2 separate regions of the Homo sapiens genome follow, and region 1 is linked to region 2. Evidence: fine-mapped expression QTL. A gene starts in region 2. The other region holds a variant in brackets. All regions are shown on one strand. Distances are between the middles of the regions. Region 1 holds the start of CAVIN3 (caveolae associated protein 3). Region 2 holds the start of CNGA4 (cyclic nucleotide gated channel subunit alpha 4).

Evidence for each region.
Region 1: its variant is fine-mapped to the expression of CNGA4 in tibial artery (GTEx, PIP 0.97).

What each region holds. Positions count from the first base shown.
Region 1 is chr11:6,311,125-6,327,165 of GRCh38, forward strand. It overlaps CAVIN3 (caveolae associated protein 3), which reads right to left and starts at 9,377. Exons shown (of 2, transcript NM_145040.3): 1 at 8,969-9,377; 2 at 7,822-8,440. The coding sequence starts at 9,352. The coding sequence ends at 8,039. It overlaps LOC101927825 (a long non-coding RNA gene), which reads left to right and starts at 8,017. Exons shown (of 7, transcript XR_930998.4): 1 at 8,017-8,573; 2 at 12,461-12,568; 3 at 12,770-12,911. RefSeq lists enhancers at 8,053-8,790, 9,334-9,383, 9,594-9,953, 9,964-10,023, 10,054-10,143. The variant A/G (reference allele first, on the strand shown) is at 8,352.
Region 2 is chr11:6,235,569-6,243,568 of GRCh38, forward strand. It overlaps CNGA4 (cyclic nucleotide gated channel subunit alpha 4), which reads left to right and starts at 3,521. Exons shown (of 6, transcript NM_001037329.4): 1 at 3,521-3,700; 2 at 3,816-3,917; 3 at 4,116-4,222; 4 at 4,498-5,143; 5 at 5,863-6,212. The coding sequence starts at 3,639. RefSeq lists an enhancer at 1-5.

The sequences.
Region 1 (16,041 bases), 80 kb after region 2:
AACTTTTATACTAAATGTTTTGTTTCAAATACAAAAATATAGCAGTAAAAGTATATAAAGTAATATATAATATAGGAAAACTGAAAGACATAATATCTCTCAATTTGGACATTTCCTTATTAGATGCTGCTAAGTAAAATAGAAAAATGTTTACTGGTGAAATAAGCTGTGTCTAGACCTTAATTTTTAAAGATGGCCACATGTTTTATCTCTGGCTTATATAATCATGCAAATTATTATAAAAAATGCATTTGGGAATATGGAAAAGGCATATTTTAACCTATGCAAAGAGTATTACCCTGGATGAGGTTATATTTTCCTTTAATTTTCAGAGAGATTTTTGTTATGTTCAGATGATGCTGAAACCCTGTTTGGATCTATATTCTATAAAATCAATTTTAAGTTGCTTAAACAATAGGAGGAGGGAACATAATACATATTTATTATACTACACACAATATTTGCTATACCCATGCATTCTTATGCATTTTTACCATGTTATAGAATATATCAGTTCTCCCTAAAGCCCAAAATGGGTATTCTTTTGTAATATGCTTGGATAAAGTAAAATTATGTTTTTAAAAAGAAATAACAAGTTTCTAATGTTTTAAACAAGAATATAATAAGCAAATGGTTTGATCTGAGAATAATATTGGCTTATCAAAGATTGTGAAAGGATGTTGTATTAGAGTAAACAATAGTTGCTTTGAAAAAAGAAAAATAACTTGAAAGAGTTAAAGTAAGGAAGAATTTGAAGTTAAAAACATCAGAATAAGGCTGGTCGCGGTGGTTCACAGCTGTAATCCCAACATTTTGGGAGACCCAAGCAGGCAGATCACTTGAGGTCAGGAGTTCAAGACCAGCCAATATGGCAAAACTTAGTCTCTACTAAAAATACAAAAATTAGCTGGGCGTCCTGGTATGCACCTGTAATCCCAGCTACCTGGGAGGCTGAGGCAGGAGAATCTCTTGAACCTGGGAGGCGGAGGTTGCAGTGAGCCAAAATTGTGCCACTGCACTCCAGCCTGGACAACAGAGTGAGACTCTGTCTCGATTAAGAAGAAAAAAAAAAATCAGAATAAACTCATGATTCTAAAAGACTCTGATTGTCATAAGAACATTTGAAGCAGCTGTTGATGTCACCCTGCCCGCAGTGGAAGCATGGGAAATAATCTACTCAATAATCAGACTTGGGTCTTATGCTGGTTTGCCACAGAAGGTATCACCAGATAACTTGGGCCACATACTAGAAAATCAAGATAAGTATGGAATAGACTGTTGTAACAAGAAAACAAGAATACCTCCATAGATGATTCAAGTATTTAAGAAAAAAAAAAGACAAAAAAGCTTAGTCTGTTTTGTGCTGCTATAACAGAATACCTGAGATTCAGTACTTTATAAAGAACAGAAATTTGTTTCTCACAGTTCTGGAGTCTATAAAGTCCAAGATCAAAGTTCTGTCATCTAGTGAGGACTTTCTTGTTATGTCCTCACATGGTGGAAGGCAGAAAGGGGTAAACCCACTCCCACAAGCACTTTTTATAGCAGCATTAATCCATTCATGAGGGCTATGAAAATTGTCAAAATCAAAATGGAGTCACTTGTGTTAAAAACCCTGACAAATAGAGCTGAGGAAGGGTATGAAGGAGGGATTCTTGTGCACGAATTCTTGATATCACAAAAGACTTTGCAAAACCACAGCCTGCACAAAAGCCATCACAACTTTACACATAAAAAAAAATGCTTCTGGCCGGGCGCGGTGGCTCATGCCTGTAATCCCAGCACTTTGGGAGGCCGAGGCAGGCAGATCATCTGAGGTCGGGAGTTCGAGACCAGCCTGACCAACATGGAGAAACCCCATCTCTACTAAAAATACAAAATTAGCCGGGCATGGTGATGCGTGCCTGTAATCTCAGCTACTCAGGAGGCTGAGGCAGAAGAATTGCTTGAACCCAGGAGGCAGAGGTTGCGATGAGCTGAGATCACACCATTGCACTCCAGTCTGGGCAAAAGAGCGAAACTCCATCTCAAAAATAATAATAATAATAATGCTTCTGAGAGGACATCTGCCTAGCAACTCTCTGTCCAATCTTGGACTGGCACCACCTTTGTTATTAATCCTTGTAGTCAACAATAATTATCTCAGAACAATTATATAATCCTCCTCATTTTTCCTTTAAAAACCTTTGTCTTCCTTTACCTCCTGAATATATACATAATTTACTGTGGAAGACATACACATTCCCATTGTAACGCCTATTCCCAAATAAACATCATTTTCTTCTAGAGAGTCTTCCTCTCCATTTGTTATTTAGGTTGACAGGTCAGAGTTCTCATGACCTAAACAACTCCCATTAGGCCTCATTTCCCTCCCAAAACTGTTGCAATGGGGACTACATTTCCAACACATGAATTTTTGGAGACACACTCAAATCATAGCAAAAAAAAAAAAAAAACACGTTGAAAAGAGCTCCCATATACCAAGAAGTGACAGGTAAGCATCAGGAGAAAACCTACCAGCCAGCAATTGATACCAATTCAGTCTTTAAAAAGAGCCATGAATTCATAACTATTCTAAAAATGAAAGGTAGGAGAAGGGAAATCATACTAAAAAGTAAGATATGTATCTTTCAAATTAGCTTTACAAAATTATGGAATAATGATCAAGTTAACTGAATCAAACATTCGGAGAGTTGGTCAACACAGATGTTAACAATTTCAAATGGTATGCAAACATAAGAAGGGTACATTTGTAATTTTTTTTAAGTTTAAGAGTATTAAAATACATTTTGACTAGCCAGATTTAGAGATATCTAAAGGTTAGGGCAAAACAGGTAGACTGTTGGGGAAAGTGGGTAAAGAAATCAGAATAAACCAGGCATGTAAATACATAAAGAATACAGGAAGTAATAATGATATCATAAAATTAATGCTACATTTAATAATCCACATTACTTTAGAATGGTCTAGTCCATGAGTCTCTGTGAAATAAAAGGAGTTGTTTAAATTGGGTTGGACTGCTCTGTCTTCATTCTGTGTTGGAGAGAGGAAGATCTATAGAAGTCCAGAAACAATATGACTCATAATAGGGGATCATCTCAAACCTATCTTCTCTAATAAACCAGACTTCCTAACAAAATGTCCATGCTTAAGACACAGGTTATGGATTAAAGAAAATAACTATCAGAATAATTAAGCTCAATCTCACAGGACCGGGGGTAGGGGATGATTGTTGGACTCTTGTTTTAAAATGACTGAATAAAGACTGTGCTTTCCACCATCATGTTAAAAATAATTCTAAAATAGAAAAGAGACCATGAATGCAAACTCTGTCTGCCTTTGATGAAACTAAGAAATATCTGAAACCACAAGGATAGATGTCAAGACAGTACAGAACACTTTAGTGTTGGAAATGCTTGTGGAATAGACAGCATTCGCGTTCTCTTCAATGCTGAGGTTATATGATTCCTCTGCTCACAATAAAGGAAAATCAAAAGGACGTCTAGTTCTTAACTAGGGAAGAAGTTTCCTGCCAGGAATGTATATATTTTTGCCCATGTAAGAGGCATGTCAAAGCAGAAAGTGGGCATATTATGTTAGATTATCCTGCCCATTATCTTTATCCAGTTTCTACTATTCTATTGCATTATACCTAGTTTAAGATCTTACTTTGGCTTCCCATGTAGACTTTGTTGAAGGATGAAAAATGTTTTGAATAGCTAGCTAGACTATTCCAGTCACTTGGCCATTAGATTTCTTCGGGAAATTAATGAATCCAGCAATCAAATTAATCAGTGTTTTCTGAGTGCAGTTATTGCAGATCAGCCTAATCTTGCTGGAATGCAAGATAAATTTGTGTTTCTGGCCTGAAAAGTTGAAAGCCAAAGTGAATGTTAATGATCCACTAATGTACCTTCCGTCTGCTTAAATAGCTGCTAAATGCCACATGTGCTGGATGACAAGTTGGTATTCTGTCATTGTCTCCACTTCCTTTATTTTACTTTTTTAAAGGCAAGGTCTCATTCTGTCACCCAGGCTGGAGTATAGTGCCATGATCATAACTCACTGCAACCTTAAAATCCTGGGCTCAAGCAATCTTCCCACCTCAGCCTCCCAAGTAGCTAGGACTACAGGTGTGCCCCCATGCCCAACTAATTTTTTTTTAAACTTTTTTGTAGAGACAGGGTTTCACCATGTTACCCAGGATGGTCTTGAACTCCTGGCCTCAAGCTATCCACTCACATCAGCCTCCCAAAAGGCTAGGATTACAGGCATGAACCACTGCACCTGGCCATTAATGTTTAACAATATTAATAATAACAACCAGCAGTGATAATGGAGAACATAATATAACAAAATGAGCTATGAAGAAATTTAACTAATTTTGTTTTAACTTGATCTTATTATTTGCTGCTATAGACAACTCAGGAAGAAATAAACATTAATATACCCTTCCCTTGCAAAATTAGTCAAGCCTTTGGGTTTCTAGGGGTCAAGATGTTTTATACGGAAAATGCACACTTAGTTCTTAATTCTAATTGTGGGTTGAAAGGGGAAAATCAAGTAGATTTCCAGGAATTTGAAAAAACAAGAATTTATTTTTCCTTGGGGACAGAGAACTGAGTCTGCTCATACCAGTCCCATTGAGACGGCCAAACCTTGAAAGGGGCACAGTCTGAGCACCAGGGTTGGGAGCCTGCAGGAGAAGGGTTGAATTTCCCCAGACCAAATGGAGCTACTGCAGAGCCGCCTTCCATGGAAGGACCCCTGCCCGCTACACCTCCTCTACCCTAACTGTCCCCAATATATTGCCGGTCAGGCTGACCTCCGGGTAATTAGAGGAGGCACCAACGAGGACACTGGCTCCCCGACACTGACATCGTGTGGTCATAAGGAGCAAGGGCAGCAGAGACATGCAAAGGCTGAGAGATGGTATGAGCCCCCTGGTACTGCACAGTCTCGAAAACGGGAAGATAACTAAAATTGCTAATCATCAACTTCCCAACAGCATGGCAGGCATGTGGGGGCTTAAACTCTTCTTATTGAATCCATGAAAATAAAAATGTGACACCACTCAAACTCAAGTGTCAAGGAGTAATTCATACGTGTAACTCTGGTCCCAATATTACTCCCCAGTGTCCTTATCTAAAGAACACCCCCACAAACCTTATCTGTATCCTTAGTCTGTTTTCTTTTTCTTCAGAGCTCATAACCAGAATGCCCTTGTGGTTCATGTGCTTACTTGTTTTATCTGGCTTACATGTTTACTTATTTATTACCTGTCTCTTCCTACTGGAATTTAACTCTATAGAGGTATGGATCTTCTCTTTCTTATGTGCCACTGTATCCTCAGATTTTATTTTATTTACTTTATTTGTTATTATTTTATTTTTTGAGACAGACTGTCGCCCTGTTGCCCAGGGTGGAGTGCAGTGGTGCAATCTGCAGCCTCTGCCCCCTAGACTTAAGCAATTCTGGTGCCTCAGCCTCCCAAGTAGCTGGGACTACAAGTGTGCACCACCACATCTGGCTAACTTTTTGGGTATTTTTAGTACAGACGGGGTTTCGCCACGTTGGCCAGGCTGGTCTCAAACTCCTGGAGTCAAGCGATCTGCCCGCCTCAGCCTCCCAAAGGGCTGGGATTACAGATGTGAGCCACCACGCCTGGCAGTATTCTCAGATTTTAAAATAGCACCTGGAAGACCCTAAGAGTTCAGTAAGTTATTTGTTGAATGAGTGGACAAATAAATTATATACCTGAAGCTTATGGAGCAAAAACTATACTCCGGCAATGTGCTGGGCACTTGATTTATGTCACTTAATCTTTCCAACAATCTAAGTAAGGGGCTATAATTATCTCATTTTATAGATAAGGGAACAGAGAACCCAAACTACCCACCGCTGAGCTCTACTGCCCCTTGCCATTCCTGTTTTCCATCTCACTATTTACCATTTCCAAGAACAATTCCTTATATATCTCCCACTTTTCCTCCTTCAGGTTGGGTCATGCCCCTTCCCCATTTGCTCTCAAAATAACTTACATGTAACCATCATTCATTACAATTGGTGATGGTATCTCCCTCTAAATCCCGAGCTCCCCAAGGTGTTCATGAGACCTAGCATAGGGCCTGGAACAAAGTAGGTATTAAAAACGTTGTTATATGATAGTGACTGAATGAAGGAGTAGGTGACTGTGCTCCTCATCCTTAACCACCACTCCCACTTCCAGTTTTTTGTTTTTCCTTTTTTTTTTTTTTTGAAACATGGTCTCATTCTGTCACCCAGGCTGGAGGGCGGTGGCATGATCTTGGCTTACTGCAACCCCTGCCTCCTGAGCTCAAGTGATCCTCCCACCTCAGCCCCCCAAGTAGCTGGGACTACAGGCACAAGCCACCACATCCAGCTAATTTTTGTAATTTTTGTAGAAATGGGGTTTCATCATTTTGCCAAGGCTGGATTTGAGCTCCCAAGGTCAAGTCCTCCACCCACCTTGGCCTCCCAAAGTGCTAAGATTACAGGCATGAGCCACCGTGCCCAGCCCCTTCTGTAATATTCTTGCTTTACTGCAGCAGGGAACTCTCCTCAGCCCCTCAAGAAGGTCTACCGTGTGCCAGACACAGTATTTGGTGTGGGAAATACAGAAATTAATAAAACTGTCCCTACTGCAAGAGAGTCACAATCTAGTAGATCGGAGGGGGCGTAACCACAAATCCTCACAATCAGTGCAGTTAGCACTAGAGGTGTGCAAGTGGTGCTTTGAGAGAAGGAAGAGAAATACCTGGCCCTGAAACAGGTGTGCTTTACTGAGTTTGGCAGGATAGCAGGGATGACAGTGAGAGCACAGAGCTCAGTGTGACTCAATGGTAGCACAAGGGGAAGTGGTGAGAGATGAGGCTACAAAAATAGGCAGGGACCAGATCACAAAGGGCCTTGAAAATAATTATAAAGAGCTTGGTCTTTATTCTGAAGATAATGGGGAGACACTGAAATATTTGAATCAAGAATGATGTGATGAGATTGGCAGTTCAAATACCGGTCAAGTGAAAGGCCTGAAATAAGGCAGCGGCTGTATTAGAAAAGTGGACAGATTGCAGAGGTAAAATCATTAGAATAGCTGTTTCCATGTGGGAGGGGGATGAGAGAAAGTCCTTGAGCCGACAAGGACTCCCAAGTTTCTCTGTGGATGATGGTATATTGATTTTTTTTGTCATCATTGGTAAAGAAAACACAAGAGGGGGAAATATTCTGAACCATACCTAGTAGGGCCTGCCACATAGTAGGTGTTCAATAAATAGCTGTTGAACGAAATGGAATTTAAAAGGTAGAAGATACTTGCTACTTTTGAAGCACTTTTCAACTGTGGCTCAAGACAGTGGTATGGGGTGTACGCAGCTGGTAGGGGAGGCCTAGGCATGAATGTCAACCGAAAAGTACCCTGAGTAAAAAGAGGGCCAAGAAAGGAATCCTGGAAAACTCAACTTTTAGGAGGTGCCAAGGAAAGAAAAGACTAAGAGGAAAACCATTAGTTGACACTGAGTAAGCACCTACAGCAAGGACTATACTGGATGCTAAAAAAAAAAACACACACACACACTCACACAAAAACAACAACAACAAAAACTGCAACTGTGTGTTCCCATGAGGAAAGTGTTTAAAGAGCAAGTGGTCAGAAGGATATTTCTATGTGTCACTGGAGGCTAGAACCCAGGACTCCGTGGAAACTGGAGAAATTGTACGATTCCAGGTTCCAACATTTGTCTTATTCCTTGTAACTGCCTTCCCACATCCAACCGCTTCCCCATCCCTTCTCACGGAGTCTGGTTCGGGTGAAATTACTTTTATTGATGGTGAGCGCAAGCAGGTGTGAGTGACTGCACCTCTTTCAGAGGACACAGGACTGGGCTTAAGGAAGGGAGGGCCAGAGCGCCCGCCTTGGTGGATGTAGGATTCGCTCCTTATTAGGGCGTGAGTGCTACATTCTGAAAGGATTTATTTTGGGACAAGGCACAAGCACAGGGGAGGCAGGCAACACCAGCCCTCAGGCTACACTCTCCATTTGGAGCAGAGCTTCTTCGGCAGCCCCAGGTCTCCCGGGATCTTCCTCGGTGTCCTGCGGAGGCTCTGGCTCCAGCGTGGGCTCCAGCGCAGGCTGGGCTTCCGGCTGGGCTTCAGCGCTCCGGCCAGGCCCAAGGCGAGGCGGCTTGACCGGGGTGGGCGGTGGCGCTGCAGGGCCTTTCCGGCCCGAAAGGGCCCTTCGGAGGCTCTGTACCTTCTGCAATCCGGTGCGCCGCAGCCGCTGGGCCCTGGACTCCACCGGCTCCTCGTCCGAGCTCTCTCCAACTTCGGCCTCC[A/G]GCTGCTCTGGGCCCAGCTCGGACTGGTCCGCCGGGCCCAAGGGCTCTGGTGCCTTCTGGAAAGCGCTGGCTGGGACTTCACCCTCCTCCTGCATGTGACGGACACAGCACTGATCCTGGCAGCTCCTTACCCCCAGCAGCCCGAAACTCACTCCTTAATTACACAAGGGAAACCTTTTACCTCCGCAGCCAGAGTCTGGGGGGAAAGGCAGGCGTGGGAAGGTAAGGGGAGGGAAAGCTGCGTGCGAACTGCAAAACGCTGTAAAGTAGGTGAGGCCTGGTGAGGGGCGAGAAGAGGATAGTGCCCGCAGTCACGGAATGCCCTTTCAACCACCGTTATTTTAGGGATTGGCTGGGACTCAGACCAAATTCTGCGGACGTGGCCTGAGCTAGAGCTGGGCGGGCTTGGATTGGCCAGGCGGGGCTCAGGCGTGAGAGGGAGGGATGGGGCTGGGTCTTGGGAAGTGGGTGCGGCTCTGTGAGTCTGTTCCACAGCAACAGACGGCGGGAGGGGTCAGGAATGTGGGTGTGGTAGGTGGATGGAAGCGGGGAGCCCCCAGCTGGTGGCCCACAGGCCGGCAAAGGCCTCGGATTGGGGACCGTTTGAGGTCACTGACCTTGAAGAGCAGAACGTGGAGCTTCCCGCGCGCCACCAGCAGCCCGTGGTTGGCCTCCAGCCGCTGCACCTGGGCTGCGCGGCGCACCGCGCGCTCTTGGGCGGCGTTGGCGTGCGAGCTCACGCGCTCCGCCTTGGCCAGCAGCTGCGCCAAGGTGTTGCTGGTGGTGTCGTGGCTGCGACTCAGAGCGCCCAGGCCGCTCTGGATGCGGCGCACGGACCCTGCCAGGCCTCCCTGCCTTCGAGCCAGGCCTCCCTGCCGCTCCCGCAGAGTCTCCAGCATGGAGGCCAGCTTCTCCAGCAGGGTCACCACCGTCACGGCGTGCACGGGACCCCCCGCCGGCGCCTCGGGCACAGGCCCCCGCTCCAACGCACTCTCCCTCATGATCCCTGACCGCTCTGCTCCGTCTGCCTGCAACTGCTGGCCGCACTACGGTCAGGGGCCTCCTTTCCCTGGCTCCTCCCCAGCTCCAGCTGTGACTCAGGCAGGCGGAGTTGGCCTTCTGGGGCGGCGGGAGGGCGCGAGGGCGTGGGGATGTTGGCAGCGGGGTCTCTTGAAAGCGTTTCGCCTTCCGCTGTCCCGCGCCGGGGGCCTGCTGGGAAGCCTGTTGGCCCCAAATCGGCCCCCTGCAAACCCTCTCACTCTGAGTTTGAGTTACCCTCCTCCGCTCCAATTCCCTGGTGTGCCTGTTTCAGTTCTCCACTGCAAAGGGCGAGTCACGGAAATTTTTATTTCATGCATCTTAGTGGGCGCAGAGACTGTGTTGGCACGGCAAAGAGATAACCAGAGGGGCCTCCGTCGCCGTCCACTTTCGGCCTCCCACACCAGTGAAGATTGCCCCCAGGCTGGATGCAGGCGACAGGGAGGCCCTGGAACATTCTGCTTACAGATCGCGAACTGTCAAGGCCCGAGGCCCCGCTTTGTGACTTGGACAGGCTGCTCATTGTGGGCTGGCGGGCGGGGCATCCTCTGGTGTTTTCCTAATAGTCATCTCCAGGGTTTAGCCTCAGGCTTCGTTTCCTGCTTCTTTATTTCGTCCTCTTGGGTAGCATTATCTGGTTTCTTTTCTCTAGTTTTCTGCCCTCTCTTTCTTTGGGTTTCACTGGTAAATCTCAGCCGCCCCGGCCCCAGCACCCAAGCTTGGAGGATAAGCAGGACACCTTCACCTCTTTTAAAATCCTTAAAAGCGTTAGACTAGGCACTGGTCTTTGCTTTGATAGAGGTTACTTGGGCTCCTGCCTGACTTTTTTTGCTTGTTTGTTTGTTTCTTGTGTTCTGTGGAACTGCGGAGAGTAAAGATTTGAAATTGCTGCTGCAGAGAGGGAGAGAGTGGGCATGGAGGATCCAGTTAATGATGTGGATTGTGAATTTCTAATGTCAGCAGTTCGAAACATCCCATGCCTTAGCCGGGCGCGGTGGCTCATGCTTGTAATCCCACCACTTTGGGAGGCCGAGGGGGGAGGATCACGTGAGGCAGGGAGTTCCAGACCAGCCTGGGCAACATGGCAAAACCCCGTCTCTACTAAAAATACAAAAATTAGCAGGGCGTTGTGACACACGCCTGTAATCCCAGCTACTCGGGAGGGCTGAGGCAGAAGAATCGTTTGAACCTGGGAGGCAGAGAATGCAGTAAACCAAGATTGCTCCACTGCACTACAGCCTGGAGGACAGAGCAAGACTCCATCTCAAAAAAAAAAGAAAAGAAAAAAGAAAATCCCGTGCCTTGTTTGTAGCAATACTTGGCAAACCGTCTCACAAATGCAAGTAATCCATTAATCCTGATGATCTCTCTCCCTCTTCCTCTTCTCACTGAACCTGTGAGGGCCACTTGTTGACAACTGTGGAAGAAACTTGTGTCACTCTGGAAATAGTTACATGGGCCTGAAGTGCCACAGACGTGGGCAGCTAATGCCAGAAATCTGGTGATGCTAAGCTGATGGCTGATTTCTACAAATACAAGGCCATAAGCCTGACCCCTGCTGCTTAATACAAGAGAAAATAAGCTCTCTTGGGAATCTGGTGGGAATCACCATCTCTTCCAGTGAAACTACATTTACCCAGAGAGATCCATCAGGGATGTACCAGTTAAAATGCTTTCAGACTGAGGGAACAAAAACTCAATTCAAACAGTACTTAGTAACAGGAAACTCAATTCAAACATAATTGAAAAAGAGGATTGGTAGAGTGGTGATTAAGTGTGAGTCATTCACAGCTCCAAATCTGGTTTTCTACAGTTCTCTCCACTGCTCAACTATGAGCCCCATCCCGCACCTCTCACACTCCCCCATGTCCCCCACACACCCCCTACCCATGTGTATGTGCCCACATACGCACAGGTGTCAGCTTCATTCCAGGCCTCACAACTCTGCACAAGATCTTAAAAAAAAAAGGGGACCATCTTAAAATTTAGGACATTTATTTCCCAGAAGCCTCCCAGAATTTTTACACTTGCCTTCCACTGGGTTACATGGCTTTTCCAAATCCAAATTCTATGGCTACAAAAATGACATGCATTGATGGGTTTAGGCCTATGTTCCCTAAACAATCACTGACAAGAAATCTAATAATTGGCTTTTGACAAGTTAGATCAATTCTGAAGTAGAGTAGATTCAGCTTCCCCAGGAGTATTAGGGTGGTATGGGAGGAAAAGTGGATATCTGTACAAAAATCTGGGTACTACTGGGAATGGATATTAATATTACAGGAAGCCTATGAAAGAATCACCAGCTTTGATGAGTGGGGCTAAGGAAATTCAGTGCATTTGGAAGTAAGAAGTACTTGCATAGATACTTGGATAGATTTGGATAGATTTTTTTTTTTTTTCCTGAGACCAAGTCTCGCTCTGTCACCCAGGCTGGAGTGCAAACGCGCGATCTTGGCTCACTGCAACCTCCGCCTCCCAGGTTCAAGCAATTCCCCTGCCTCAGCCTCCTGAGTAGCTGGGATTACAGGCACGCGTGACCACGCCCAGCTAATTTTTGTAATTTTAGTAGAGGCAGGATTTCACCATGTTGGTCAGGCTGGTCTTGAACTCCTGACCCCATGATCCGCCCACCTTGGCCTCCCAAAGTGCTGGGATTACAGGCGTGAGCCACCGCGCCCAGCATAGACAGATATTTTTTTAAAACCTGGTAATGAAGTGGCATTGTTGTCTGGAGTAAATACCCGAGATTGGTTGTGTCACAGCTATGGAAAACTAGGACATGGACACACAAAGAGGTTCAGAGCAGAAGTTGAATAGGCAAAAGAAAAAGAAGAGCTCTCTGCAGCAGAGAGGGGTCCCAGAGAAATGGGTTGCTGGTTCCACCGTGGAATGCAAGGGATTTTATAGATGACCTTAAGGAGGCAGTGTGTCATTTACATAGGGCACAAAAGATTGGTTGGACCAGGTGTGTCATTTGCATACAGCTCAAAAAACTGGTTAGGGCTAGGTATGCCATTTGTATAGGCACAAAAAGATGGCCACCCCCACCCTAATCTTTTATTTTGCAGATGGGTTCTCTACCTGGCCAGTGCCATGTTGCCTGTTTCTTTACTGTAACTGTGGTGACAAAGAAAAGGGAAGATGGAGCCTCCATGTTGAACATACCTGGCCCCCAGGTAGCCCTTTTCTATTGACACAGCTGCTGGCATTCACCCCTGCAGGCTTCCAGCTTGCTTATCTATGTTTGCAGCTTGATTTTTCAGGCTGTTCTTTGTTAGAAAAGAAATGATTTGGGGGCTGATTTTTGTTAAAAGGGAAATTCTGCTGAGGACTCTTTTGCCCTCACTATCTGCCTAATTTTTTTCCATCTCCTGTAGCACTAACTCCCTCTCTGGATATCTGGAACAAGGAGGACCTTAAACTTAACAATAAAGCCAATGATGGTTCTACCAGTCTCCCCAAAGCCTCAAGTTTAAAAGCCATATGAACTGGCTGATAGTGGAAAATGGAAGCCATGAGGTAAGTAAAAATAACTTGGGGCCAGCTAGAAGAATGCCTGAGTCAATAATGCAGAGATTGACAGAAATTGTAGTAGAGTGACCTTGATTATAAAGTATCCAAGGAAGAACTGTATTGCAGTTTCCAAAAAGGGTAAGAAAAGAAGAAAACAAAGAAAGATGCAGAATGATGCCCTCTGTTCAAAAATAAACTTACGAACCTTAAAATTTTAAAGGGTTTATTTGAGCTAAGAACAATTCATAAATTAGGCTGCACTCAAGGCCAAAAGAGGTTCAGAGAGCTCAGCTGCAGCAGTGTGGGCAGTGAGCTTTTATAGGCTGAACATGGAAGTAAGACAAAGAAAATATATTTGATTCATTAATATGGAAATTCCCCTAGTTAGAGGTTAGTTGGTGGTTTCTGATTGGTAAGGTCCCTAGTTTTCTTTTACTTTTTACATTGGGCTTTGGTTTGCTTATGTAGGAATCAAATGTGGTGGAGCCATCTCAGCCTGATGGCTTCCCAATTAAAAAACTTTATAACACCTCTAAGGCAGTGGTCTTAAAAATTTCTATTCTTAGCCAGATGCGGTGGCTCACACCTGTCATCCCAGCACTTTGGGAGGCCAGGGTGGGCGGATCACCTGAGGTCGGGAGTTTGAGACCAGCCTGACCAACATGGAGAAACCCCGTCTCTACTAAAAATACAAAATTAGCCAGAGATGGTGGCACATGCCTGCAATCCCAGCTACTCGGGAGGCTGAGATGGGAGAATTACTTGAACCCAGGAGGCAGAGGTTGTGGTGAGCTGAGATTGTGCCGTTGCCCTCCAGCCTGGGCAACAGGGGTGAAATTCCGTCTCAAAAAAAAAAAAAAATTCTCTAAACTAGGGGTGTGGCTGGCATCTACTCTCTCATACCCCATGGTATGGACATGAAAAGTGGAAACTTATTGTCGCAGGTTGCTTGTGTCCCCAAAAAGATATATTTAAGTCCTAACCCCTGGTGCCTATGAATATGACCTTACTTGGAAATATAATCTTGCAAATATAATTAAGATGAGGCCATAATGAAGTAGAGTAGGCCCTTAATCCAATATGACTGGTGTCCTTATAAGAGAGGGAAGAGATACACAGGGAGAACACCATGTGACAACAGAGGCAGAGATTGGAGTTAGCTGCCACAAACCAAGGAATGCCCCAGAAACCGAAACAGGCAAGGGAGGATCCTTCCCTAGGAGCTTCAGAAGGAACATGCCCCTGCCAACACCTTGATTTCAGGCTTCTGCCCTCCACAACCATGACAGAATAAATTTATGGGGTTTCTGGCATTGGTGTTGGTGTTTTTGAGACAGAGTCTTGCTCTTGTCGCCCAGGCTGCAGTGCAATGGCATGATCTCAGCTCACTGCAACGTCTGCCTCCCGGGTTTGAGTGATTCTCCTGCCTCAGCCTCCTGATGAGCTGGGACTACAGGTGCCCGCCATCACACTTGGCTAATTTTTGTATTTGTAGTAAAGACAAGACAGGGTTTCACCATGTTGGCCAGGCTGGTCTCAAACTCCTGACCTCCAGTGATCCACCTGCCTTGGCCTCCCAAAGTGCTAGGATTACAGGTGTAAGCCACTGCACCCAGCAAAGTTCTGTTGTTTTAAGCCACCTAGTTTGTGACTTTTTTTGTTTTGGTAGCTCTGGAAAACTAATAACAACTTTGATTAATCAATATCAGTATTACAGTATCCCATTACCCAGGATGCTCCTGCAAATGGCTTCCCCAATTATGTGAAAGTATTAGAGTCTCTGTAGGAAAAGTTAATAAAACCTGAAGACTCACAGTAGAACACAGACAAACCAATAGTTGCCCAGATGTAATGAGTCTTGCAAAAATGAGTGGAATACTATGGTAGTTGAGCTAACAACTGCTTTAAAAAACTAAAAGGTATTACCCATCCTGTTTGTCAAGGGTTCCATTTATATACTGGCCCATCCCCTCCCCAGAGCACAGCCTACTATGAGGAAGAGTTGGCTGTACTAAGGAGAAACAAATCCACTACACCTTTCATCAGGCCTGGGGCTGTCTGAAATATATCTGCCTAACAAAGATCTGCTTAAGGGTGGCCCTCTGTCTCTACCTATTCAAGAACAGCTGGATGCTCCTTTCGCTTTAAGGAAATCTCTGAAAAAGACAGATCAGATCATAGTGCCTTAGATGGTATCATTCTGCATCTTTGTTTTCCTTCTTCTTTCAGTTGCCAGGTGCCCCACTATATGAAGTTGCCAAGATCCCCTAAAACAAAAGTGACAAAGGCACTGCCATTCTTCACATCATACCCAAGAGGATGAGTCTGTCCCACTGGGTTCAGAGACCATCCACCAGAAATCCAGCAGACAGGGATTACCTAGAATAGTAGTGCTTAAACTCAGGACAGGTAGTGAAACATGTAACACCTCCTACTGCAACAAAGAACAGAGGGAGGTGTTAGAGTCAGCAAATGCTTCACCTTGGAATTTTCACACACTCTATATCTTGAGTCCTCCAAAAGGCTACATACTTTCAGTAGGATTGAGAGAAGCCTCAGTGACTAACCCTGGCAAGTTACAAGCCACAGTATGGTCAATTCTATCCTTTGGGTCCTACAAGTCAGAAAGAAAAATGAGACCCTGAAGTCTCTGTGATTTCTACCTCTTCCACCAAGATGATTTGTCAGGGAGGGAGGAGGGCAGATCCTACAGGGGAAAATACAGCATAAGTATTTAGGATTTTTGACTAAGGAATGCTTTTAGCAGCTGAGAATTGTACTGCTTTTGAAAAACAATTGCTGGCTGATTACTGGAGGGGAATAATAGTACTAGAGGAGAGACTCGACAGAGGTTGCTGAGTGGTTTTGTGAATTGGAACCCTTTGTCTTACATAGCAATAGAGCTTAACAGTCTTTGATTATTAAATAGAAAAATCAAAATCTAAGAAAGGATGAGAGACATCTATGTGAGCTCATTACCAAAGAAATATCCCTGACCAGGACCCTCACTTTCATCTGCCCAGAAAAACTGATGCATCCTCCAGGCACTAACCTTTAAATCAAAAGTAACAATGTGAGGCACAGACAGACCACTCATTTAACAGGCAATGTGCCTCAGTAGACAGGCACTACCTTC
Region 2 (8,000 bases):
CGAGTCTTGGGAAACAAGCAAGAGTAAGATAAACTAAAATAGAAAAATAGAAGTTTCAGATAAGGCATGTAGTTTTAAAAGTACTTTACCGGCTGGGCGCGGTGGCTCACGCCTGTAATCCCAGCACTTTGAGAGGCCGAGGCGGGCGGATCACGAGGTCAAGAGTTCGAGACCAGCCTGACCAACATAGTGAAACCCCGTCCCTACTACAAATACAAAAATTAACTGGGCGTAGTGGCGCGCGCCTGTAATCCCAGCTGCTTGGGAGGCTGGGGCAGGAGAATCGCTTGAACCCGGGAGGCGGAGGTTGCAGTTAGCCGAGATCGCACCACTGCATTCCAGCCTGGGCGACAGGGCGAGACTCCGTCTCAAAAAAAAAAAAAGAAAAGAAAAAAAGAAAAGTATTTTGCCAATGTTAAATACCTGGTTTTTATCATTGTGCTATAGTTATGTAAGATCATAACGTTAGGGGAAGATGGATAAGGAATTTATGAGAACTCTGTATTATTTTTGCAACTTTTCTGTAAGCCTAAAATTAGTTCAAATAAAAAGTATTTAAAAAGAAATAGAAGTTTCAGACCAAAGGATCAGCATATACCAGGGAAAGGAAGAATGGACAGCATGTGGGAGGTGCTGTAAGAACTGCAATCAGTACAGTGTGTCGGGAGCCTAGGGAACATGTGAGGAAACATTGTGAGATGAGGCTGAAGACATGGACTGGAGAACTTTATAAACCATGTTAAGGAATTTAGATTTTATTTTTGGGATGATAGCTATAAAGAATTTTATACATAGATTGATAGTTATACAGTAACTTTGCAAAAGACCAAACAAGCTGATAAGGCCCAAACTAGAGTAGCAAAAATGCAGAGAAGTGGACATGTGGATTTTTAGAAGGTAGATCACCATGGTTTGATGATTGGGTGGATATAAGAGGAAAATAAGAGGAAGAATTAAAAACTAATGCTTAGTTTATATAAATTCAAAAACAGGTAAAACTAAACTGTGATATTAGAATTCAGGATAGTGATTATTCTTGGAAAAACATTGACTGAAAGGGGCAGAGTGGGGCTCCTGAGGCACTGGTGATGTTCTGTTTCTTGATCTGAGTGCTTGGTTATATGGGTGTGTTCACTTTGTGAAAATGTATTAAGCTATATACTTAAGGATTGTACACCTTTCTCTGTGTTTGTTTGTTCTGGTTACTATGCTATGTGACAAACCAACCCAAACTTAGTGTCATAAAAACAATAGCCATTTTATTATGTGCACAAATTCTGGGAATTTGGACGAGATGCAACAGGAATGGCTTGTCTCTATTCCATGATGTCTGGGGCCTTATTTGTAAAGCTTGAACATCTAGAGGTGGTTTGAGGCTGGTGGCTGGAAGCATCTGGAGGCTTCTTCAGTCACACATCTAATTCCTGGGCTGGGATAATGAAAAAGCTGAACTCATTGGGCAAACTGTCAAACAGAACTTCTCACAATGTGATGGGTAGGTTCCAAGAGGGAACATTCTGAGAGGGAGCTACCAGACAACACGCATTCCAAGAGAACCAGAGGGAAGCTGCATGGCCTTTTATGATCTAGCCTTAGAAGTCACACAACATCACTCCTGCTATACAAACTATCACAAGGGAGTGGTGTCGAAGAATTTGTGACCATTTTTTTTAACTGCCACAACATTATACAGTAAATAGTAATAAATGCTTGTCATAGGTTTTTTTGCTGAAAGGGCATAGATAGGAATTCTAGAAGAAAAAGTGGAGGAAGATAATGAGCTTAGTTATAGACCCAATGGGTTGAAGGTGACCGCGGGATACCCAAGTAGGAACATCCAGTGAGCAGTTAGTCATATAGATAACTGAAACTCAGGGAGAGTTCTCGGGAGCCACTATATGAGAAAGGAAGTCCTGTGGGTGACTGACGTCAATCAGACAGAGTTAGGAGGATGGCAAAAGTAGAAAGCCTAGAACAGAATCCAAGAAAAAAAAAAAACACCATCATAGAAGGAATAGACAGAGGAGCTTATGAAAGACACTAAAAAGAAACAGCAAACCAAGACATTATGGCATTACAAAGGATTTTATTCATTTTGTTGCATTACTTTGAATGTTGTCTTTTTATTTTAACAAGCGTAATACTTTGCAAAAAGAAATTAAGAAGCCATGGGAAAAGAGAGTTTTTCAAAATTTAATTAGGGACCACAGGTTTTTCTTCTAAAACACACTCCAAAAACACAAACCTGATTTTATCACTGAACTGTGAAAAACTCTTCACAGGTTCTCTATTGCCGTTGGGTAAAATCCAAGCTTTATAACATGGCTGACAGAACTCCTCCTGAGCTGGCCTCTGTCTATCATTCAACCTCATCTCTCACCACTACCCGCTAGGCCCTCTAAAATAAGCCAATTGATATTTGCCCAGTCACCCACGCTTTTTGATATCTCTATGCCTTTGCCCACTCTGTGCATTCTGCCTCTAGTGCTCTTCACCCTCCCATCTCTGTACCCAACTCCTATTCATCCTGCAGAACCCAGGCTCTGTAGGGCCACTTCATGTGTACTATAATAGCCTTCCGTGTATCCAGCTAACAGAGTACTCATCAGCAGCCTGGCAATGACTGCTGCTGTTTAGTTACCTCATGTGTAATTACCTGCTGGCCTGACTATTTCACCTAGCAGACTGTGAGCTTCTGGAGAAGGGGGAGCGTGTCTTATTCATCTCCAATTCCTAGTATTTAGCACAATATTGGCCTGGCACACAGAACACCTGCCTATGGGTGTTCTGATTTTGATTTGTTGACTGAGAAAGATGATAGCAGTGAAAGGAACATCAGGTTGAGGGAGAAATTGTAGGGTTTTTGTTTGTTTTGATATAGGAGATATTGAAGCAGGTTCACAAAAAGAGAAAAGTTGAAAGATTGGGGACCATAAAACACATGGAATGGTTGGTAGGATCAGGCACTAGAAGTCACAAGAAGGATATGAGGACAAAAGCACCATAGGATGGCCCCTATCACACTACCTATGAGAATGGTGTGATGGGGGAAGGCGTATGTGGAGGTAGATAAGGGTAGGAAGTAGGTTACAAAAATAGAGCTCACTTCTCATGTGAGAGGCATCTCTTTGTCCCTGGAGAATAGTTTAGCACCTGACATAGATAAGCCATTCAGTAATAGTTGTTAAATAAATAAATAGTGAGGCCCAAATAGAATTTGCAAAGATAAAACAGAGTGTTTGATCCTACACTAAAACTGAGGTCTTCTGACCCAGAGGACACCTATGTAGCTCAGTTGCTGTGGAAAGAGGGGAGGAGGAAAACAGAGACAAGACTCAGGCTTCCCTCTGAGGCATGCACCCCCACCTTCTCCAGGGATCTCATTAGAGGTGTTTAGCTGGGCAGGTGTAAGCCCAGGCCCTGGGAGACAGGGCAGAGTGCTAGAGCTAGACTGTCTCCACCCCTTCAGTAGCGCTAGCTCTGGTTGTGTTGCTAAGAGCCCCAAAGACAAAGAAGTCACAGCAGAAGCCCAACAGCAGCCTCCTTCAGGCAGTCAGGCACTAGTGCCCAACTCCAGAAGTCCCCTACAGGCAGAGAGGGTGTGGACATCTCACACCCCAGCACCAGACCACAGAACCATGAGCCAGGACACCAAAGTGAAGACAACAGAGTCCAGTCCCCCAGCCCCATCCAAGGCCAGGTGAGAAGTCCTGGTCCCTTGTGTGGGATCTCTCCTCATTCCTCTTGGTGCCCCAGTCACAACTACAGCTTTGAATGCCTGGTGAATAAATGAAGCAAGACTTTCTTTCTTACAGGAAGTTGCTGCCTGTCCTGGACCCATCTGGGGATTACTACTACTGGTGGCTGAACACAATGGTCTTCCCAGTCATGTATAACCTCATCATCCTCGTGTGCAGGTATGGCAGCGGTGCTAAGGGAGGGGCTGGAAGCCAAAAAGAGGACTAAAGAGAGGTCAAGGAGAAGGGCAGACCCTTGGTGGGGCAGGAGGAGCAATTCCCATGGGAGGGCCTGAGGCAGAGGGTTAAGGGCCCTGGGGAGACGCCTCGCACACAGAGGGTGCCCTTAATTCAATCATGCTTAACCCTGCCCTGCAGAGCCTGCTTCCCCGACTTGCAGCACGGTTATCTGGTGGCCTGGTTGGTGCTGGACTACACGAGTGACCTGCTATACCTACTAGACATGGTGGTGCGCTTCCACACAGGTCAGTGGGCTTCTAGGAATGACCCTTTGTCCCACATTCCCTTCCTAAAGATAGCCACTTAAGAAGTAACAAGAAAGGCACCCCCACCGTGGTAGCACCTTCGCGTGCCTCTATGCCTGACAGCATCCCAGTGCTCACCCCGGAAAGCCGGGAGCAGAGTTATGCCTGGCTCCACTCTGTCCTTCAGACAGTCTCCCTGGCCTGCCCTGGGCAGCTCATGCTCAGCCCAAGCTTGACTACAGCAGGTCCGCTTCCTACCGGCTCCCTCTCCCCAGGATTCTTGGAACAGGGCATCCTGGTGGTGGACAAGGGTAGGATCTCGAGTCGCTACGTTCGCACCTGGAGTTTCTTCTTGGACCTGGCTTCCCTGATGCCCACAGATGTGGTCTACGTGCGGCTGGGCCCGCACACACCCACCCTGAGGCTGAACCGCTTTCTCCGCGCGCCCCGCCTCTTCGAGGCCTTCGACCGCACAGAGACCCGCACAGCTTACCCAAATGCCTTTCGCATTGCCAAGCTGATGCTTTACATTTTTGTCGTCATCCATTGGAACAGCTGCCTATACTTTGCCCTATCCCGGTACCTGGGCTTCGGGCGTGACGCATGGGTGTACCCGGACCCCGCGCAGCCTGGCTTTGAGCGCCTGCGGCGCCAGTACCTCTATAGCTTTTACTTCTCCACGCTGATACTGACTACAGTGGGCGATACACCGCCGCCAGCCAGGGAAGAAGAGTACCTCTTCATGGTGGGCGACTTCCTGCTGGCCGTCATGGGTTTCGCCACCATCATGGGTAGCATGAGCTCTGTCATCTACAACATGAACACTGCAGATGCGGCTTTCTACCCAGATCATGCACTGGTGAAGAAGTACATGAAGCTGCAGCACGTCAACCGCAAGCTGGAGCGGCGAGTTATTGACTGGTGAGAAGGCGGGGTTCCAGACCAGGACAGGGACCAGTGTAGGTGATGGAACCTGAGGGAGGTAACTGGGTCCTTAGTGCCTGGTGAGCCAGGCAAGGCTGTCAAAATGTAGCATTCAGCCGTGGGTTTGCTGGCTGGGGCTTGGAAAAAGGGAACTTCTTTCAACTGAGGGAATCAGGACTTGGGGGAGGGGTAGGTAAGAGACTGATAGGGAGAGGAGCTCATACTCAAAAAAGGATAATATGGAGACCAGGGAATGGGAAGTGCCACTGCCTGGTAGGGCTCAGAAGGCTCTGGAAGGAGTGGGTGAAGAAGGGCAATCCCCCCTGAGAATGGTCAGCAACAAGATCATTGGCTACCTATGGTGATTCATACTGTGGACTGAACAAAAGGAAGTGTCACAAAGTTGGGGAAGTAGAGCAGAGGGTCCCCAGAGAGGAGGGGCCCTTGGTGGCTGAGGTAGCTAAGGGTAGGGGTGGAACAAGACATCACTGATTGGTGGGTAGGGTAGAGCCTGATAGGAGGTGAAGGGTTATGTAAAGTGGTAGAGGTGTCTATGCCCTGGAAAACAGGTAATCCAACTGTCAGGTACTCCCATGACCCCTGTTAGATCTCAGTATGGTGGGATTCTTGGCTGGAGCTGAGCTGAGCCCTGAAGGAAGGGATGGAGGCAGGCACATAAAGGGCTGGTAAGGAAATGGCACTGTCCTTACTCTCAGGTATCAGCACCTGCAGATCAACAAGAAGATGACCAACGAGGTAGCCATCTTACAGCACTTGCCTGAGCGGCTGCGGGCAGAAGTGGCTGTGTCTGTGCACCTGTCCACTCTGAGCCGGGTGCAGATCTTTCAGAACTGTGAGGCCAGCCTGCTGGAGGAGCTGGTGCTGAAGCTGCAGCCCCAGACCTACTCACCAGGTGAATATGTATGCCGCAAAGGAGACATTGGCCAAGAGATGTACATCATCCGAGAGGGTCAACTGGCCGTGGTGGCAGATGATGGTATCACACAGTATGCTGTGCTCGGTGCAGGGCTCTACTTTGGGGAGATCAGCATCATCAACATCAAAGGTGGGTATCCCAGTATTTGTTCCAGGGACAAGGATGGGTGGGGTAGGGGGGAACAGCAGAGCCCAGTGCTGGGACCAGATAGTACTTCAGGCCTAAACTTCTGATTGAGGAAACCTGGCCCTTCTCTGAGTCACTAGATGGCTCAGGAGAAAAACAACACATAGAGGATCCATTCCCTGAGAAGAAGCTGAGCCAAGGCCAGTGAACAGGGTGGGTTCGTGGAAGAGAGAGTAGACTTGCTCTGTGGATATTCACCTGAAGCACCAATAGACTAGTGGACAGTGATAGAGATAATAATAATAATAATAGCTAATATTTATTACCTGCTTACTGCATCCCCTTTTCTAAGTGCTTCACATGATATTAACTCATTACATTCCCGCAGCAGTTCTATAAGATAAGTACTATTCTTATCCCAATTTTAAAGATAAGGAAATCAAACTCAAAGAAGTTGGGTAATTTGCCCAACGTCGCACAGGTATACACATGTGGGATGAGTGGAAAAAACAACCTTTTTACAGCCAAGTGGAAAGAGAAAGGTAGAAGAGAAGAAGTTCCCATTTACTGACCATCACCTCTAGGCCAAGCCAGGTACTACCTACTGGCTTGCTTTTTCCTCTCATCAGCCCTGTGCAGTAGGAATTGTTATGCCTAATCACAGGTATTAGGCATGAGGTCGTGCAAGCAGGAAATCCTGCAAATGGGGTAAGCACACTGTCATGGACCGAGAAGCTGGATGTGCTCTGGCTCTCTCAGCATGAGGATTCTACCCTCAGGGATTCTGAAAGCCTCACATCTGTCCTCCAATGATCCCCTCAAGCTCCACATCCTGTATGTGGTAGGATGCTGTCTGTTTGACTTTGGACAAGTCATTTCCCTATTTAGGCCTCAGTTTAATCACCTATCCAATGAGGACAATAATAAAAACCCAATGAGTTATTTGTGAGAATAAATGAGCTATGTGAGTGAGGCATCCAGCGCAGTGCTTGGCATACAGCAAGTGTTCAACAAATAGTAGCTCCCTTTCCCTTGTCCAAGGTCCTTCTAGCTCTAAGACTTTGCAGCATTCAGCCTCACCTATCTCCCCACCCATTCTCCACCAACATCTTTCTAAACTGCAAAGGATATCATACAGCTCCCTGCTTAAAATACTTCAATAGTTTCCTACTGCCCTCAGCATAAGGCCTGAACTTCATGTCATGGCTTATGAGACCCAGTGTGACCTAGATCTCCCCTCTCTCCACCCTCCCCACACTCTGCGCTTCTCGCACTCTGAACTGCTTACTATTTTCTGCATCCAACTGACTCTTTTCTACCCCCTTCCCTCTGTTCCTGCTCCTTCCTCTGGCTAGATTGCCCTATCCCCACTTGTCCCCCTCCTCCCCCTAGTTACCTCCTACTCAGTTCAGGTGTATGAGACTGTTCTTGCATTTCTATAAAGAAATATGTGAGACTGGATAATTTATAAAGAAAAGAGGTTTAATTGGCTCACAGTTCTTCAGGATTTACGGGAAGCATGGTGCTGGCATTTGCTCAGCTTCTAGGGAGGCTTCAAGAAGCTTATAATTGTGGCAGAAGGCAAAGGGGGAGCAGGCATGTCACACGGTGAAAGCAGGAGCAAGGGTTGGGGGAGGTGCCACACTTTCAAACAACCAAAACAACCAGCTCTCGACTCACTAACTCAAAGACAGCATCAAGCCATGAAGGATTCGCCCCCATAATCCAATCACCTCCCACCAGGTCCCACCCCCAACATTGGGGATTACATTTCACATGAGATTTGGGCAG